Linked DNA regions of Homo sapiens: region 2 is linked to region 1. Evidence: fine-mapped QTL for protein levels in blood plasma. Region 1 holds a variant in brackets. A gene starts in the other region. All regions are shown on their forward strands.

Region 1 (10,171 bases):
CACCCCTATAATCCAGCTACCCAGTTCTCCTCTGGAAATAACTGATGTTACAATTTTCTCTATGTCCTTTTAGAGACAGTTTATACATTATCTTAGTTCATATGGGTGCTATAACAAAATATTATAGCCCATGGACTTATAAACAACAGAAATTTATTTCTCACAGTCCTGGGAGCTTGGAAACCTAAAATCTAGGTTCAGCAGATTAGGTGTTTTCTCATTTGTTTGTTTGGTTTGTTTGAGACAAGGTCTCACTCTGTTGCCCAGGCTGGAGTGCACTGGCAGGATCGTGGTTCACTCCAGCCTCAAACTCCTGGGCTCAAAGTATCCTCCTACCTCAGCCTCCCAAGTAGCTGGGACTACAGGCACATACCACTACAACCAGTTACTTATTTTTTATTTTTTGTTTTTTTTGTAGAGACAAGGTCTCACCATGTTGTCCAGGCTGGTCTTGAACTCCTGGCCTCAATCAATCCTTTTGCCTCGGCCTCCCAAAGTGCTGGGATTACAGGTGTGTGCTACCAGCACCTGGCCCAGATTAGGTGTTTGATGAGAACCCACTTCCTGGTTCATAGCCAGCCATCTTGCTGTGTCCTCACATGGCTGAAAGCAGTAAAAAATCTCTCTGGGGCCACTTTTATAAGGGCATTGATCCCATTATGAGGGCTCCACCCTCATGACTTAATCACCACCCAGAAGCCCTACCTCCAAATACCATTACATTGGGGATTAGGTTTCAATATATGAATTTGGAGAAGGGGGTTGGGGGAGACACAAACATTCAGACCACAACACGTATATAAAGCAAAAACATATATATTCTCTCCACTCCCCTTTCTCTACTGTTACTTTTGTGTATATTTTCCACACTGTTCTGCATTTGCCTTTTTTCACTTAACAATTTAACAATACAACCTGGAGATCATTAAATATCAGTACATTAAGTGTCAGCTTTTTTTTTTTTTTTTTTTTTTTCCAGATGGAGTCTTGCTCTGTCACCGAGGCTGGAGTGCAATGGCGCAATCTCAGCTCACTGCAACCTCCGCCTCCTGAGTTCAAACGATTCTCCTGCCTCAGCCTCCTGAGTAGTTGGGATTACACCACCATGCCCGGCTAATTTTTGAATTTTTAGTAGAGAGGGCATTTCGCCATGTTGGTCAGGCTGGTCTCGAACTCCTGACCTCAGGTGATCCACCCACCTTGGCCTCCCAAAGTGCTGGGATTACAGGCATGAGCCACCGTGCCCAGTCAATATAAAATTCTTAGAGTTCAAAAAACTTACCTTATAGATGACATTGAAATTTCAGTTTAATTCTTGTACAAGTATTGTAAATATTGTTGTTTCTAACACTCCAAAGTCTTGCTATTTGGCTTAATTTTTTATTTAAATAATGTACATATTTCCAGCTGCACTATAAACTACAGAGAGCAAAACTCAGGAAGGTGGCAAATAGTTCAGCTGTTTTACAGACCTGAGCCCTGGCAGAAGAGAAGAGGAAAAGGGGCTCTCCGCTGGACCGCTCCCACAGGCTCTTACTGTCCTTGAGGCATTTTCCTTGCCCAAATAAGAAGGAAAATTATTTTCCAGTCTTAAATCAAGTGCCAAAATTATTCTTGGAATTGCTCCCTTCATCTGTCCGTTTCAGTTTTTTCCCCATGGAGGTGTGGTCAGGGCAGCCAGAACTTCACCGTCAGAATCAGGATTGGAACTTAATTGCTCCCACAGACAGCTGGTTTGGAAAAACTCCTTGCAAGGCAATTTTGATAAGGGATGAGAAAGATCAGAAAGCTGATACGTGTTGGATCTGAAGCTCTAACCATACACCTGACTTGAGTCTTTCTACAGGGCTAGTGGCTAACAGAGATACAAAGGAATTAATCATCTTCGGGGATTTTTAGGAAAGAAAAGACAGAGGAGCTGAGTTCCACAAATTGTTAATGTTAGTCTCTAGCTCATTTCCCAAGTTCTTCATTTTCACTCTCCTGCTTAGTCCAGTCTAGTCAAGAGCGTGGGCTTTGGAGTCAGATGAACCTTAGCCACATCCATGTTTGTCCCTTGTTGGCTGTGGGATCACAAGTAAATTAGCCTCCTAGAGATAGGGTCTCCACCAATAAGACCGGGAGCATGCTCTCCTCCTCTACCTTCCTGTCAGTGTTGAAGTGAGGATTAAAGAAAATCAACTATGGGCACGGTGTCTTGCATGGTCCTGACAAATAAGGCTCAGTAAATGTTAGTTCATTTCATATTATCACCTTTCTACCCCTCTGACCAATGGCCTAAAACTCATTCTTCTGGAGTTTATGGTCTTGACCAGTATTAAGTTAGAAAAGAAGCATTATGGTAAGGCAATCTAAGTGGGACCACTGGCTTCACCTGTACCTAAACTAGAATTTGGAATTTTTCTAAAAATCCATTCCTTTCAATGTGGTAAGATTTTCAAACCCTCTGAAATGTATTTTGCAGTGTCAACAGCCCCTCTGTGAGAAAAATCCATACCTCTGGGGGCAACTCTAACAGGTTTTGTAATCAAGTCAAAACTGCAGCTTATATTGAAACATTTCACAATCTTGTAAAGCAATTTAGATACAAATAGATGTTTTACAAAATCAGGTTCAAGTTTCTCTTTTCTTTCCTCTCCCTAGAGAATATAAAAGGCAGCTCTCAAAAAATAGGAACTGGTTTTATCATAGAGACTTTAGAAATTATCTGAAACAAATGGTTTTGAGATGTTATACAGTACAAATATACAGTAGTGATTTACTTTAATTCAAATTATTTATTTATAGAAACCTAACAGGGACCAATTTAACCATAGTGGCAGACATTGGCTAGCTATTCACCAAATCTGTTTTTCTTCTGGGCACGCAGCTAGACTGTATTTCTCAACTTCACTTGAACTTAGGATGTGCCAAGTAGAATGTGGTCAAAAATGATATACAGCCAGGCGTGGTGGCTCATGCCTGTAATCCCAGTACTTTGGTAGGCCAAGGCAGGAGAATTGCTGGAACCCAGGAGTTCAAGACTAACATGGGCAACATAGCAAGACCTTGTCTCTATAGCAATTACAAAAATTAGCTGGGCATGGTGGCTGGCAGGCGCCTGTAGTCCCAGCAACTCAGGAAGCTGAGATAGGAGGATCACTTGAGCCCAGGAGGTTGTGGCTGCAATGAGTGAGCTGTGATCACACCACTGCATTCCATCCTGTGCGACAGAGTGGGGGTGGGGGGAAGTTTTATATATATATATATATATACATGAAATCACTTCCAGACCTGGCCCATTAGAACTGCATGCCATTTAACCTTCCTGGATGAAAGGAAGAAACATGACTCCCTGGACAATCTTGGGAGCTACTTTTTTTTTTTTTTTTGAGACGGAGTCTCGCTCTGTTGCCCAGGCTGGAGTGCAGTGGCGCGATCTCGGCTCACTGCATGAGCTTCAGCTCACCTTACAATGGGTAACACAGGCAACAGACAAATAAATAATAAGATTTCAAGCACTGATTATTACAGCTGTCCCTCGGTATCCATGAAGGATTGGTTCCAGGACCCCCCCATGGATAAGAAAATCCAAAGATGCTCAAGATCCTTATATGAAATGGCATAGTACTTGTATATAACCTACACACATCCTCCTGCATACTTTTTTTCTTAATAAAAAAAAGTTTGAGTTTTTCTTTGACACACGGTCTCACCATGTCACCCAGGCTGCAGTGAAATGGCATAAACACAGCTCACTACAGCCTTAAATCCCTGGGCTTAAACACCTGCCTCAGCCTCCCAAGAAGCCAGGACTACAGGCATGTGACACCATGCAGGGTTATTTTTGTTTTTATTTTTTTATAGAGACAAGGTATTGCGATGATCCCCAGGCTGGTCTCAAACTCCTGGCCTCAAGTGATCCTCCAACTTCAGCCTCCCAAGACAGGCATAAGCCAGTCTGCCCAACCCTCTTGTGTGCTTTAAATGATCTCTAGTGTACTTATAATACCTAATACAATGTAAATGCATATAAGTAGTGTTTTTGTTTGTTTGCTTTGTTTTGTTTTGTTTTTGAGACAGAGTCATGCTCTATTGCCCAGGCTGGAGTGCAGTGACCTGATTTCGGCTCACTGCAACCTCTGCCTCCCAGGTTCAAGTGATTCTCCTGCCTCAGCCTCCTGAGTAGCTGGGACTACAGGCGCCCACCACTACACCCAGCTAATTTTTCTATTTTTAGTAGAGACAGGGTTTCACCACGTTGGCCAGGCTGGTCTTGAACTCCTGACCTCAGGTGATCTGCCCGCCTCAGCCTCCCAAACTGCTGGGATTACAGGAGTGAGCCACCGTGCCCGGCCAGTTTTTTTTTTGTTTGTTTTTTGTTTTGAGACAGAGCGTGGTTCTGTCAACAGGCTTCAGTGCGGTACCGCAACATCTGCCTCCCAGGTTCAAGCAGTTCTCTGCCTCCTGAGTAGCTGGGATTACAGGTGCCTGCCACCATGCCCAGCTAATCTTTGTATTTTTAGTAGAGACAGGGTTTCACCATCTTAGCCGGCTGGTCTTGAGCTCCTAACCTCATGATCCACCACCTCGGCCTCCCAAAGTGCTGGGATTACAGGCGTGAACCACTACGCCTAGCTATATAAGTAGTTTTTATACTCTCTTGTTAGACAATATGACAAAGGGAAAAAAGGCCTATACATATTCAGTCTGTACAGCAGCAGTCACCTATTTTGTCTCGTTGAATATTTTCGATCCATGGTTGGTTGAATCCACAGATGTCACACTCACAGATATGAAACCCACAGATAGAGAGGGCTTACTGTACTTAGATGGAAAGTAAAGAAGAATAAAAGGAGTTAGAGAGAGGCCGGAAGGATCTTTTAGAAAAGGTGGTTGGGAAAGAGCTTTCTGTGCTGGTAGCATCTGACCAGAGACCTGAATGATACAAAGAAGCTAATCATACCAAGATCAGAAGGGACAATGAACTCTTAACAATTGTTCCTCTGAAACAAGTTATTTGTAGAAGGAAAACAAAGGTAACGACAGTATAAAAAAGAAAAGAAAACTAGGCCAGGTGCGGTAGCTCACGCCTGTAATCCCAGCACTTTGGGAGGCTGAGGGGGGCAGATCACTTGAGGCCAGGAGTTCAAGACCAGCCTGGCTAACATGGCTAAATCCCACATCTCTACTGAAAATACAAAAATTAGGCCAGGCGCGGTGGCTCACGCCTGTAATCCCAGAACTTTGGGAGGCCAAGGCAGACAGATCACCTGAGGTCGGCAGTTCGGGACCAGCCTGACCAACATGGAGAAACCCCGTCTCTACTAAAAATCCAAAATTAGCTGGGTGTAGTGGCACATGCCTGTAATCCCAGCTACTTGGGAGGCTGAAGCAGGAGAATCGCTTGAATCGGGGAGGTGGAGATTGCAGTGAGCTGAGATTGCACCACTGCACTCTAGCCTGGGCAACAGAGCGAGACCTGGTCTCAAAAAAAAAAAAAAAATTGCAGGGCGTGGTGGCACACACCTGTAGTCCCAGCTGTTCAGGAGGCTGAGGTAGAAGAATTGCTTGAACCCAAGAAGCGGAGGTTGCAGTGAGCTGAGATTGTGCCACTGCACTCCAGCCTGGGCAACAGAATGAGACCCTGTCTCAAAAAAAAAAAAAAAAAAAAAAGACTGAAATGAATCAACTTAGATAAAGATTAGTCAAAGAGAAAGATGAAACCCAAACCCCAGTCTTATAGATTCCTGACCTGACTTTGCCCTTGTCTAAAAATCTGCAGCCTGGTGGATAAAGCTCTTTCTTCCATTTTTGGCTTTGTATCCCTATTTCCAGTCTTTCAAGTTGAAATTTGCCCATTTATTCAGGCAACTCAATAAATATAGTAATATGTCAGGCTCTATCG[C/T]TAGACATTCGTAAACTCTATCTACATAAACTGAACTTTAGGAACTCCAGCAGGTTATTTAAAATCTCCAGTCCCTAATTTCCTCATCCCTAAAACAGAGACAGCACTAGTAACTAAGTTACTTTAGAGGTTTGTTCTGATGATCAGATGAGATAGTTCACCTAAAATGCTAGTACAGAGTAAGCACTGAAGAAATATTTTCATGAAGTCTAAATTAACCTGCTGGACACCATTCAGAGCACAAGTCTATCAAGTACCTGACTCTATGTTCTTAAGAACCCAAGATACTTCTGCCTTCTTTTGGGCCAGACTTCAATTCATTCAGACTTGAAGAGAAAGAAGAGTCTTCCCCATTAGCTTTGCAGGTGGTGGCAGTGAGCCAATAGCCTCTGGTATGCAGAAGGCTTTGTGTCAGTGATGCATATTCACGAGTAGCTGACCTGAGAGAGCAATCTGGCTCTCTGAGCAAGGTCACTTCTGAGCTGCTGTCCTGTACAACTCCACAGGGCACCATGCACATAGAACTGAACTGTAATCTGTTTGTGCATTGGGAAATCAAGTCATGGCTTATGGCTAGGATCTTTTTTTTTTTGAGATGGAGTTTTGCTCTTGTTACACAGGCTGGAGTACAATGGTGCGATCTCGGCTTACGGCAACTTCGGCCTCCCAGGTTCAAGCGATTCTCCTGCCTCAGCCTCCCGAGTAGCTGGGATTACAGGCATGTGCCACCACACCCAGCTAATTTTGTATTTTTAGTAGAGATGGGGGTCTCTCCATGTTAGTCAGGCTGGTCTCGAACTCCCGATCTCAGGTGATCCACCCGCCTTGGCCTCCCAAAGTGCTGGGATTACAGGTGTGAGACACCACACCCAGCCCAAAATTCTTAAAAGAAGCTAGCCATGGCTGGGTGCGGTGGCTCATGCCTGTAATCCTGGCACTTTGGGAGGCCAAGGTGGGCGGATCACCTGAGGTCGGGAGTTCGAGACCAGCCTGACTAACATGGAGAGACCCCCCATCTCTACTAAAAATACAAAATTAGCTGGGTGTGGTGGCTCATGCCTGTAATCCCAGCTACTAGGGAGGCTGAGGCAGGAGAATCGCTTGAACCCAGGAGGTGGAGGTGGCGGTGAGCTGAGATTGCCCCATTGCACTCCAGCCTGGGTGACAGAGTGAGATCCTGTCTCAAAAAAAAAAAAGAAAGAAAGAAAGAAAAAAAGAAAAGGGCCAGGCGCAGTGGTTCACGCCTGTAATCCCAGCACTTTGGGAGACCGAAGTGGGTGGATCACCTGAGGTCAGGAGTTCGAGACCAGCCTGGCCAACATGGTGAAACCCCATCTTTACTAAAAATACAAAAAGTTAGCCGGGCGTGGTGGCGCACTACTGTAGTTCCAGCTACTCGGGAGCTGAGGAAGGAGAATCGCTTGAACCTGGGAGGCAGAGGTTGCAGTGAGCCAAGATCAAGTCATTGTACTTCATTCAGCCTGAGCAACAAGAGTGAAACTCCATCTAAAAAAAAAAAGAAAAAGAAAAAGAAAAGAAAAAAGAAGATATCAAGGTACATCATATATAACAAGAATAGATATTTTTTACCTGAAACAGTTATATAAGTTTATACATATATACATACACACACCACGCACACATAATTTTACATATATATATATGTTTTATATATATTAATTTTAGGGTTTGTTGTTGTTGTTGTTGTTGTTGTTGTTTGAGATGGAGTCTTGCTCTGTCACCAGGCTGGAGTGCAGCGGCAGGATCTCAGCTCACTGCAACCTCTGCCTCCCGGGGTCAAGCAATTCTCCTGCCTCAGCCTCCGGAGTAGCTGGGACTAGAGACGCACGCCACCATGCCTAGCTAATTTTTGTACTTTTAGTAGAGACGAGGTTTCACCATGTTGGCCAGGATGGTCTCGATCTCCTGACCTTGTGATCTGCCCGCCTTGGCCTCCCAAAGTGCTGGGATTACAGGCATGAGCCACCACACCCTGCCTAGTGTTAGTTTTATATATTGCAGATTGCAGAAGATGCTGTGATGTACTACCCAGAGTCTGTCCTTCAGGACTAAGGCACACAGTCCCCAGCTCCCATGAATGCTGCCTGCTGACTACTCAGAATTCAATCCCTCCCCAGGAGCTGCCCATGGTCTGAGAGAGTTGAGTAAACCCAGGATCAGGACCCCTTCCCAGGGAAAGCCCACATCCAGTGACTGGCCAATTTGAAAGGTAGGTACAAAGGCCCAGCCCTCCCAGAGTGACCAACTTGTCCTGGTTTGCCTGGGACTTTCCTGGCTTTAAAACAGAAAGTCCCATGTCCTGAAAACCCAGGGCAAACTAGATAAACTGGGATGATTGGCCACCCTACTCTTGCCTCAATTTGGGACACCACTGATGACCCACCTTCAGAACTCTCTCTGGGATCAATTGAGGCTCCCCCTGGGTTGTAAGAGCATCACAGTTCAACCTCTCCCTCTGCCCAGTCCTGCATCCCTTGCTCTCTGACAGGTGCTGCTCCTAGGGTGCTCCCCAGTGAACAGGCTGCATGTAACTCCCCAGCCCAGATCTGCTTCCAAGGGAACCTAGCCTGCTAGTATAGCGAGTCCTAATAATCAAATGCATTTCTTGCTGGGAACCAAGGTCAAAAAGATTTGGAAGCCACTTCTACAGTAGATACTACCAGTTTGTAGTATTTACATAGCACACCTCTTTTCCATTAATAATAGCATCCTGCTTCTTTTGGGGAAGTAGTACTACTCTGACTCAAGTCAGGGGTTCTTGTGGGCACCTCTAACTTCCAACTATCACCACAAGGCCTGTGACTCAATCTAGACCAATCAGAATAATTTCCTGGAATTTTTCTATTCATACTTAAAGAAAAAGACTCCTGGCTGGGCGTGATGGCTCATGCCTGTAATCCCAGCACTTTCGGAAGCCGAGGCGGGCGGATCACCTGAGGTCAGGAGTTCGAAACCAGCCTGGCCAACATGGCAAAACCCCGTCTCTACCAAATATACAAAAATTAGCCAGGTGTGGTGGCGGGCGCCTGTAATCCCAGCTACTCAGGAGACTGAGACAGGAGAATCGCTTGAACCCAGGAGACTGCGGTGAGCCAAGACTGCACCATTGCACTCCAGCCTGGGCAACAAGAGAGAGACTCCTCAAAAAAAAAGAAAAAAAAAAAAGAAAAAGAAAAAGACTCCTTTCCTGGGGCCTCCCAGAGGCCATGTAGCCCATACACAGGCAGAGTAGTGGGGAAAATTAAGATAAACAGATTCCTGCGACATCACAGTGGGATTTCAGGCAGTCCTGGGACCCACTTGCACCTCTACTCTTCCTTGTTTCTCCTCCAGGTGGGCTTCTGCCATCTGCGGCCAAAAGGATCCTGACTGGTGGCACAGACTTTTAAGAAAAGCAGCTATACTGCTGCTTATACCTAATTTTTTTTTCTTTGTTACATTTATCTGTCTTCACTTCTTTTGCCTTCTTTCCTCTACTTAAGTACTTTCCTCTTTTGAACCACTTTTTTTTTTTTTGAGACAGAGTCTTGCTCTGTCGCCCAGGCTGGAGTGCAGTGGTGCGATCTCGGCTCACTGCAAGCTCCGCCTCCTGGGTTCACACCATTCTCCTGCCTCAGCCTCCCGAGTAGCTGGGACTACAGGCGCCTGCCACCGCGCCCAGCTAATTTTTTGTATTTTTAGTAGAGATGGGGTTTCACCGTGGTCTCCATCTCCTGACCTCGTGATCCGCCTGCCTCGGCCTCCCAAAGTACTGGGATTAAAGGCGTGAGCCACTGCGCCCGGCCTGAACCACTTTTTTAAGACCTGTTCAAATGTCTCCTGCTCAGTGAAGTCAAACTTTCCTGCCACTCCCAGACAGGTGCATAGTTAGATCCATGGACAAACGTTCATGAGATCTTGCTACTATGATGCTTATGGCTGCTGCTGTGCTAGCACAAGGCCAAAGATGGAGCAGTGCACAGCCCAGACCTCCAGGAGCTTTAGTGTTGTAGTGGAGCAGGCTGGCTCCTAAACAGATAATTACCATTTGAGGTGGTAAGTGCACTGACAGAGATGTTAGAGACCCACACCTAGGAGAGGGAAGTGTGAGGTAGCAACATGTTTGTCAATAATCTATTAGCCCCCCCTTTTTTTTTGAGACAAAGTCTTGCTCTGTCACCCAGGCTGGAGTGCAGTGGCATGATTTCAGCTCACTGCAACCTCCGTCGCCCAGATTCAAGTGATTCTTGTGCCTCAGCCTCCCGAGTAGCTGGGATTACAGGT
Region 2 (9,739 bases), not on the chromosome of region 1:
AAGGCTCACTGAAAAGAAGAACAAACCCTTTTCCTCTTCTAATTGATGGAAAGGTCATTGAAAGGAACACCCTGTATAGAGGATAGTGCAATGCCCACAGTATTCCAACATTTAATTAAAGCATTGAAATACAAACTAGGGGTGGTGCTAGACTTTATTTCCATCAAGATGGAAAATACTGCACCAAAACCCCAAATGGAGCTACTTAATTCTTTAAAAATTATGTCTATCAAATACTAAGCCCCTAGAGAGGCATTCTCTGTCTTTGGCCAGCTGGAGAGTGCATTAGTTAGGAAAAATTAAGCAAGGAATACAGATGTCACCTCGTGCTTTCCCTGGCACATCCTGCAACACCACTTAACCTGTGCCCCCTGCACATTGCAGCTTTGCATACAACTGTGAACTGTGAATTTGGAATTTAAAAAGACTCTGGATACTGTTGGGGCTGAAATTAAAAACTCTGAGGACAGTTTTCTCCCTTAAGACCCCTTGCTAAAGGTAAGCTGATATCCTGGGGTTTCTCATCAAGCCAAACACGGAGCACCAGGTCGCTAAACAGCAGCTACAGCTTCCGTCAGCTCTTCCCCTACTCTCATCAACCTCAAAGTCTGTCTTTCCCCAGCTATTTGCAATTCTCTGAAAGGACATGAGCCCGGGAAGGGAGAACTGGCTCCCAAGCGCTTTCCTACAGGAGCTCAGCGCAGTTGCCAAATTCCTTTTCCTCCCCTCCTCCGCAACTTTTCTCTAAGTACCGGAGAAGGGCTTGCTGCCTACTCCGAGGCAGCGGCAGTGCCAGCGGTGCCTGGCACACGAACAGTGGAACCTGCAGGCGAGATCTGACCCCCGGCTCTGCCCCCGCCCTCCGCGGCCACCTGCCCGATCTCTGAAGAGTGTGGAAGCCCGGGGCTCTCTTGGGAGAGAAGCTTCTCTACCTGGGAGAAACAAATCAAACATTTATCCTGTTCCGCAAAGGTACCCAGGGAGCAGCCTCAGCGGCACCCGCAGAGGAGTCTGAGCAAGGGCACCAAGATCTGGCCAAGAGATAACGACGTCCAGGGACCAGGTGCCCTTCGGCTCCCGCCGACCTGTTGCTCGAAACTTGCCCTGAGCTCTCGCTGCCGGGCTCTGGGCTCCCAAGCCTCTCCCCCGCCGCCGCAGCAGCCTCTTTTAGGGGCCCGGAAGAAATGGGAGCCGGGGCTGGTGAGAGGGGTAGGAAGAGGGACGGTAGAAGTTTCAGACCCAGGCATATTTGGGAAGGCGAGTGCTTTACATGATTCCCCATTTCCCAATCGGACCAGCTTAGCCTGGGCAGGCAGCCTCGTGCTGAGGTGCCTGGAGACCGCCCACCCCCTAGGTGCTCGCTTCCCCCCGGGTCTGACCTGATCGAAGTAAATGATGCGCGTCTTGTTGCTCATCTCGGATGGCTCGTGGTTGGTGCTCCGCACCGCCGAGAAGGCGACCTTGGAGTTGGCCGCCCGGACCGATATCCCCAGCGGGGAGGAAGAGGAGCCCTTGGAGTCCGTGGCCGGGTTCGAGTCGCACACCACCAGACACTTGCCCTCCAGCACGATGGGCTCCGTGTCGTTCTGTGCCCAGACGGGCAGCCCCGGCAGCGTGAGGACCAGCAGCACGGCCGGCACCGCGGACAGCGCCCGGCGCCCGGAGCCCATGGTGAGCCGTGTGGGCAGCCGCAGCCGGCTGGCGCTGGTGCTCGCCCGCGTCGCCTCCTACCCCGGGATCCCGGTGCTCGGGAAGATGCTAGCGGCTAGGTCGACAGCGCTGCAGGAGCGACGGCGGCGGCGGCGCGCACACTTCCACCAATTCTGTGGCTTGAAGTCAAAGTCTCCCCTCGAGCTCTCTCGCTGGCTCTGTTACCTTTGTCCTTTAAGGAGCTCATGCAGCACCCTTTACCCTACTCTCCTCCGCCCAAGAATCAGCCCTGCCTGGGGCCCCTGCACCCACTCTGGTTCCTAGACATCTGAAAGTCATCAAACCCTCACATTCACACCTCAAGGCAAAAAATAATAATAATAATAAATTCTCACCCCAAACTCAAGCACCACCAGCTAAACCACGGAGCAGGAACAAAAAGAGGGGACTCAAAGAGAAGCCACAAGGGTGGCGGGTGCCCAGCGGCGCGGGTGCCAGTCCTGTCTGGCTTGCGGCAGGGACGAGTTACAGAGGCAGAAGGTCCTTCCCAGGCTGAGAAGAACGCGAGGCTGTGTTCATGGCCAGGACGCCAGCGACTCCCACTTTCGCCTGGTCAAAAAAATCCCCCAAACCTGGTGTCACCCAGAGGTAGGGAGGGAGGCAGCGGCTAGCCAGGTCCCTCGCACCGAAAGCGCGGATTCGCAGGATCAGGTCCAGGGCGCCGGGCGCAGCGTTCAGGGCGGCTGGTCCGGCGGGGTCCTCTCCTGCCTGGCCGCCCGCCCCCAGTCCCTGCGCACAACTTTCTCGTCCCTCGTGCAGCCCGGAGAGCGCGAAGCGGGCACACGCGCTCTATTTATAGGAGCGCAGCGTCCGGCTGGGTTGGCTTATCGCGCAACCCGCGGGCTCCGAGAAAAGGGGGAGAAGGCGTCTGGTGACCCCATCTGAGCAGCTCTCTCCTGACGTTTAACGCACCCCAAAGCAAGCGGGGCGCACAGCACTGGTGATTGGCAAGGTTCGAGGCCCCTCAGCCCCTGAAAGCCCGTGGCGTAAAGGATGCGTGCCCAGAGAGGAGCCCACGGCCCTGCGCTGGCCCCAGCTCCGCGCCCACTCTCTCCTGCTCGATCTGAGTCCGCAGAGGAGGCGGCTGGTCCCCTCACCCCTCCCAGCGCGGAACTCTGCCGCCGAGTGCCCTCCAAGCGGAGCGCGGCGCTGCCAGGCCGGGTCGCGAAAAAGGATAAGCCGCCGCGGACCCGCGCTGCGCGCTGCCCCGAACCTGGGGACCGGCGGGCGTCCCGACCGCGCCTGGCCGGGAGCCCGCCCCACACAGCCCTGGGGCCTGGCGAGCTCAGGGAAGCCTTGGGGCGGACCAGAGCCCGTGGGGGCGGCTGGGAGGAGGTGCCTGATTCCTTCCTTCCGCTCCGGGAAGATGAGCCTCAGAAGCCGCAGGGGCGCGCCTTCCCCCCACACCGCGAATCCTCCCCAGGCATGGCCAAAAAAAAGAGTGGGAGAGGGAGTTAACTCAGCAAGAATAAGTCCTCCGAAACCGTGCCAACAACAATAAAAAAATAAAAATAAAAATAAAAATAAAAGACAATCCCACTCCTAGGAATACAGCATTTTTCTCCCCTTTGGATGCGCTTTCCGCCCCCGTGCCACTCCACTGCTATCTTGGCCTCTGATTTGCAAGAGTTCCCTTCCTCTTCTGCAGCTACCACGGGGAAGGGAGGTTTGTCTCTGTCTGGACCCGGCTGCGTGAACTTGGCCGAGTCACTAACCCTCTCTGAGAGGGGGGCGCGGCGTTAACTAAGGTCCTCCCCACCCCCATCCCGCCAGCTTTCCAATTCTGTGATGCTGTGGGGTCATGGCGCCCCTTCCCCAATTTCTTCTACACTTCCAGCTGCCAGAGGGCAGACACGTATGGTATCTTTAACCAAAACAGTATCCCCTCCAGGCATTCGGAGCTCCTAAAATGGCATTGGCTAGTTATGAATGGAAGGGATGTTTATTGAGGGAGGTCCTTGGGATGGACGGCTCCCATTCCTTCCTGAGTGAAGGACGCCCTCATGAGCGTGGCATTCGAGCCCTCCACAAAACAAGGTGAACCTCGTCTCCAGCCTTTTTCCCTTCCTTCAGAAGGGCCGGGCATTGAGCTATAAGCACCAGCTCCAACTGTTAAAATTGAAGACACTACGAGGAATCCCCTAACCCTCACCTCCCTATAATCTCTCAACTAAAGTGTTAATACTTGGTGCCACAGGGGCCTTCAGATTCTGCTCCAGTGGGGCCAGTATCAGGTGTTTTGACTTTATGATTTTATTTTACTTGTGGTGGGGGGTGGTCTCGCTATATTGCCCAGGCTAGATGCAAAACTACTGGGCTCAAGCGATTCTACTACCTCAGCCTCCCCAGTAGCTGAGACTACAGGCCGGTGTCAGTTCCGGCTGGCAGGTGCTAGTACCATGCTATTTGTTAAAATGTTGAAAGTTACCTATCTAAGCTACAACCAAACAAGGTGAACTAGTGCCTTCTGAAGATGGCCACCATTTACCCAGCTTTGATGCCCCACCCTAAGCCCAGCACAATCTTCACCTGATCCCTCTCTGCACTTTGTAACTCTCTTCCAGATTTTAGGGATGTCTGCCTGGTTAACAGCAGCAATTTCTTCTCATTTGATGCAGTCTTTTGAGGGTGGGTGCTGAGTTGAATTTAGTTCCTTTTATTTCCTGTAGGGGTAAGCACCCTGCCTTCCTTGTCTGGGACAGCTGTTCAATAACTAGAACTTTGGTTGTTCAATTTCAGGCTGGGAGAAGTTTGACAAAAAAAAAAAAAAAAAAAAAAAAAAAACTGTGTTGAATTGTTAAATAGAAAATAAGCTATCTTCCTCACCAATTCCAATATATTCTCTCTACCTCCTTTTCTTCTCCAGGCACTTCCTGCACGCAAGAACTGAGATTTGAAGAAACCTATTCTTTCTCTCACCAAAAATATTCATTTTTAGTCCCAAAATCTGCATAGTGACCATAGTAAAGACTCAATAATTGAGAAATGACTGAATGCTTCCTAATAGAAGGTAATTATCACTCATATTATAGTATAAACTGCTTTAAATGAGTCTCTCTCAGTAAAATTTAAATTCAAAGCCTCCTTAATAATTGGGGATAAGGGTCTCGGTTCCTTACTAAAGGATGTTCTGCTCTTCAAAGTGTTCTGAAGATAAGGAACACAGCATTTTCTGTGGACCCCCGCTAAGAGAAGTTATCTTATATTGTGAATCAGAGGGTCCTGACTCTTTTTCCCACAACAGTTGATTAAACACGGATAGCCCCTGGGTTCTAGGACCATCAATGCATTTGATACCAGAAGTCCAAGATTTGTATGGTCCAACTTGGCCAGATGACTTGGGGCTGCCAGATTTTCTCTCTGCAATCTTAATGAGACATCAAAATAGCTTCCAGTAAGCACTACATGTGGCAGAGACAAGGTTTGTAGTCTCCCAAACTGACGTGGCCATGTAGGAGTCATCTGCAAGCTGAAGCAGAAGAGGTATTGGAATAAACCAGAGGACTGGCCACACTTGTAGAAAGAAGCCAATTCTGGAGCATGAGCACTTCTAAGAAGTACAGGGAGTGAATAGTCAATCGCCAGTTCTGAACTCTTGCTTACAAGAGTTCCAGAAACATTTTCTCCTAACCTTGGGTTTCTTGGTATCCTCCTATGTCTTTGAAATAAAAACCCAATTCCCTTGAGCTAGTTTTAGTAACATACCGCTCCCTGTCATCCAGAATCCTCATTAGAACATTGTCCCAGAAACCATACCACAAAAGGCTATGGATCTCTTGCCAAAAGACTAACAAATCCAATCTCCTGCCTGTAGGAAATGCTTTTCCAACATTTTGGGAAAGGAGGCATCACCTGTTCCTCACCCCCTACTTCAGCCCCAGCATCCCCAGGAGAAAAGAAACAAGATCAAGTTTAAGTTTCTCTCCAACCACAGCATAGATCTGTTTTTCTTTTTCTTTTTCTTGTATTTTTCCAGTTGAAAATATGCTATTAGAAGACCTAGCAGTGACCCAAATATTTTCCCTTTCTGAGATTCCCATATTGTATTTGATGCCTAGGATTTTTTTTTTCTCCTAGACCTTTAGAGATGACGCAGAAATGCATTTCAGTTCTCTGCAGCTGGGCTTAACTTTAAAGTAAATTAGAATCTAAACTATCCTTGCATAGGAAAGCAATACTTCTGAGGTCAGTAAATTCAATGACTGCTTGTCCAGCCATCCTTTAGAGAAACCAAGTTTCAAGCAAGCCCAAGACAGTAAGGATCTATGAGCTATTTTCTGACTGTGAAGAAAATGTTTCTGAGAAGGCAAAGACAGACACACACAAGGTATTCAGCTCTAAGGGCCTCACTGTGGTTGAATGAAAGCAGACTCCATGCATCATGCAGCAGAGACAGCCGCAGGTCAGTCGTGCAGAAGATGGAAAATCGAGAGAGAGAGAGCAGTGAGGCTTGCATCATACCCAGACAAAGTTCCACTGAGTTGCTTAATTACCCTTTGCTCTTTATAATGATAGTTATCAGCCCAAGCTAATGATCTTTTTTGAGGGAGAGTAAGTAGCTTAAGAAGAAAAAGTCTTGGTGGGACTGTAAACTAGTTCAACTATTGTGGAAGTCAGTGTGGCAATTCCTCAGGGATCTAGAACTAGAAATACCATTTGACCCAGCCATCCCATTACTGGGTATATACCCAAAGGATTATAAATCATGCTGCTATAAAGACACATGCACATGTATGTTTATTGCAGCACTATTCACAATAGCAAAGACTTGGAACCAACCCAAATGTCCATCAATGATAGACTGGATTAAGAAAATGTGGCACATATACACCATGGAATACTATGCAGCCATAAAAAAGGATGAGTTCATGTCCTTTGTAGGGACATGGATGAAGCTGGAAACCATCATTCTCAGCAAACTCTCTCAAGGACAGAAAACCAAACACCGCATGTTCTCACTCATAGCTGGGAATTGAACAATGAGAACACATGGACACAGGAAGGGGAACATCACACACCAGGGACTGTTGTGGGGTGGGGGGAGGTTGGAGGGATAGCATTAGGAGATATACCTGTTAAATGACGAGTTAATGGGTGCAGCACACCAACATGGCACATGTATACATATGTAACAAACCTGCGCGTTGTGCACATGTACCCTAAAACTTAAAGTATATTAGAAAAAAAGAAGAAGAAGAAAAAGTCTCCATGAACAACCAATATGTGAGAACTTACATAGTCTGGAAAGTTCCAGAGTCATGTTGAGTAAATCTTCATAGCTCCTTCTGGAGACAGCCAAATGACAGACTTGTTTCATATGAGGATGGTATTGTGGGAAAAAAATAGATGGATGCTGTAAAAAATACTTCTCAATTGGTTTTAGAATTTGAAAATTGTTTGGGACAGTTTTTCTAGATAGTTTATTCCACTCACCCCATTGGCAAATAAGGTACGTGTCTAAGACATCAGTGAGAAGTGAGACGTCTTGGTCATGGCTGCAGACAGGTTTTGATGCCCCTTTTTGGCTTCCCATGATACCCTGAGCATGTTCCAGTCATTATATTTATCATAATGGTTTTAGTTGATTTATTGTTGTGTTTTCCCTGGACCATTAACTCTTTGGGAGGACAGAATTTAGCAGAGAGTAGGTATGCATAAATAAAGTTTACTGAATAAAGTAACATCATTGCTTTTAGTTCTCATAAGGGAAACAATATAACATTTAATCACTATGATCTAAGTATGATAGGAAAAGTAAAATTATTTCAGAAATGTTGGGGGCTTAAAACGTCAAGTCCACCTTAGTTACTAAGAATGGAAGCCCAGTGAGAAAAGGTTTTGTGGAAAGGGCCACATCTTGAAATGTGTTGAGTTGAACCTTGAGACTGTAGTAAAATCTTAGAAAGAACCTAAAAAATTCTCTCTCTCTCTCTCTCCCTCCCTCCCTCTCCCTCTCTCTCTCCAGTCTCTCTCTCTCTCCCCGTCTCTCTCTTTCTCTCTCTCTCCCCCATCTCTCTCTTTCTCTCTCCCCACTGTCTCTCTCTCTCTCTCTCTCTCTCTCTCTCTCTCTCTCTCTCTCTGCTCTCTCTGTGTCCCTCCCTCTCTTCCCCTCTCCTGGGCACATCTTCATTATTCTTTGGCTCACTGCAATCTACCGTTCTCTGAGGCCCGCATGAGGGAAAATGGCAGCTGATACTTCCAGATTTCACACATAACAAAGCCATCCACTCAGAGATGCCCCCAGATCCCCGAGAAGAGATGCACTGCAGCCATCTGCGTTCAGATGCCCAATCCCAAACCAATCAACTTGGCTGTAGAAACAGAATCATGCTGCACACGTGACTGATATCCCAGCAATGAGGTGTGTAGAAAATTGGGGCGGGGCATGGGAAAAGGAAAAATCCTAGAAAGCTAATATAAGCAATATGTGGCAAAGGGAAGAAGAACAAGAGGCAGACTAATTTGTGTTGTGTGATTCCAAGTTAATTCCCTGCAAGTGTGTACAGATATGTGTGTATTTCAATACACAGAGAATACAAGTTGGCAACAACTTGTCAAATTTAAAGGAATTGAATAGAAGGAAACACTATTAATTGTATTTCAGATGTTTCCTTATTATATATGTGCTCACAGCAATTGTGTATTACATTGTGATTCACGTTTGAAAATTTTTTGTTTTTTGAGGTGCAGTCTCGCTCTGTTGCCCAGGCTGGAGTGCAGTGGCATGATCTTGGCTCACTGCAAGCTCCGCCTCCCGGGTTCACGCCATTCTCCTGCCTCAGTCTCCCAAGTAGCTGGGACTACAGGTGCCCACCACCACGCCCGGCTAATTTTTTTGTATTTTTAGTAGAGACGGGGTTTCACCATGTTAGCCAGGATGGTCTCGATCTCTTGACCTCATAATCCTCCTGCCTCGGCCTCCCAAAGTGTTGGGATTACAGGCGTGAGCCACCGCGCCCAGCCCACATTTAAAATATTTTTTAAAAAAGAAAGGGTTTCTGAGTAGATCATCCAATAGTGATCTATCACATTCACACTTCTTCTCCATAGTTTACTCTTAATTAAAGTTTAAAAAGTGGCATTGATTGAACAGCAATCTCCCTTTTTTGTTATACTGATCCGACTCTAAAAATCACTTACTCCAAGTTTAGAAAGATGCTCTGATATAGAAAGCCTCACAGTATACATTTAAGAAAAAAAATTCCATTGCAACTAGTAACACTGATGCATGCTGTCAAAATTTCTCGCTACATTTTATTCAACTTGGCTTTCTTTATATAGTATGTTAGCATCTAGGAAAGCCATAGCTCAGTGCTGGGTGTATGACATGTGCCTGGCCACTCGTGTTTATGTTGTGTAGATAAGAAGAGTCTAAATGTGGGGTCCAAACCAATGGCTACTTGTAAGAATCAGCTGGGATGCTTCTTTCCAACAGAGACTCTCTGGCCTTACTCTGAGATAATGGCTCTGCCCATGAACTGGGAAGGTTTACTTAACCAGCACCCAGGTAAATCTGAAGCAGATGGTGTTTGACTTTGTAGATGCCATTGGCGTGATGCCACAAGAGTCCATTTGCATTCGGGTTTTTTAGCTCTATGGTTAAAAACAGGGTGTTTAGAGTCAGCTCTACCTCCTACTAGCTTTATGACCATACAGCAAGTTACAAACCTTCCTTCATCCAAGAAAATTGCAATCATGAAAATCATATTCAGTCCATAGCTTCTTGTGAGAACTGAGTGGGGAAATTTGGGCAGAGCATTTAGCTCTGCACCTGGCACACAGGAAAGGCTCAATTAAGGGTAGCAATTATTATCATTAATCTGTAGACTCTACTAATGACTAAAGGTGTCAAACCACCACACTCTAAACCAAGGCCCATTAACTATTGGCAAGCAATGGCCCAACTTAACCTCACAGACATTATAATAGGGGAAAACGAAGTGTACCCAAGTGTGAGAGACAATCCAGGTTCAGATGCCCAGAAAATAATCACACCCGAGTTTGCAGGGCCAGCCATTGCTGATAGATC

Direction of the effects. Positions count from the first base shown, and alleles are read on the strand shown. Strength reflects both the effect of a copy and how common the allele is.
With allele T in place of C in region 1, the plasma level of the protein whose gene starts at base 3,018 in region 2 is lower (weak association).

Evidence for each region. A credible set is the group of variants that fine-mapping cannot tell apart. PIP is the posterior inclusion probability: the model's chance that the variant is causal. The UK Biobank Pharma Proteomics Project read protein levels with antibody pairs (Olink). The fine-mapping took linkage between variants from a reference panel, not from the people measured, so its PIPs are less certain.
Region 2: it holds the start of CBLN4, and the variant in region 1 is the best candidate, but not a certain one, in a credible set for the plasma level of the CBLN4 protein (UK Biobank, PIP 0.61).

What each region holds. Positions count from the first base shown.
Region 1 is chr4:56,855,258-56,865,428 of GRCh38, forward strand. No RefSeq gene overlaps it. Among named protein-coding and RNA genes, the nearest start is that of SPINK2, 39 kb to the left of the region's middle. RefSeq lists an enhancer at 4,928-4,997. The variant C/T (reference allele first, on the strand shown) is at 5,888.
Region 2 is chr20:56,002,502-56,012,240 of GRCh38, forward strand. It overlaps CBLN4 (cerebellin 4 precursor), which reads right to left and starts at 3,018. Exons shown (of 3, transcript NM_080617.6): 1 at 1,380-3,018. The coding sequence starts at 1,670.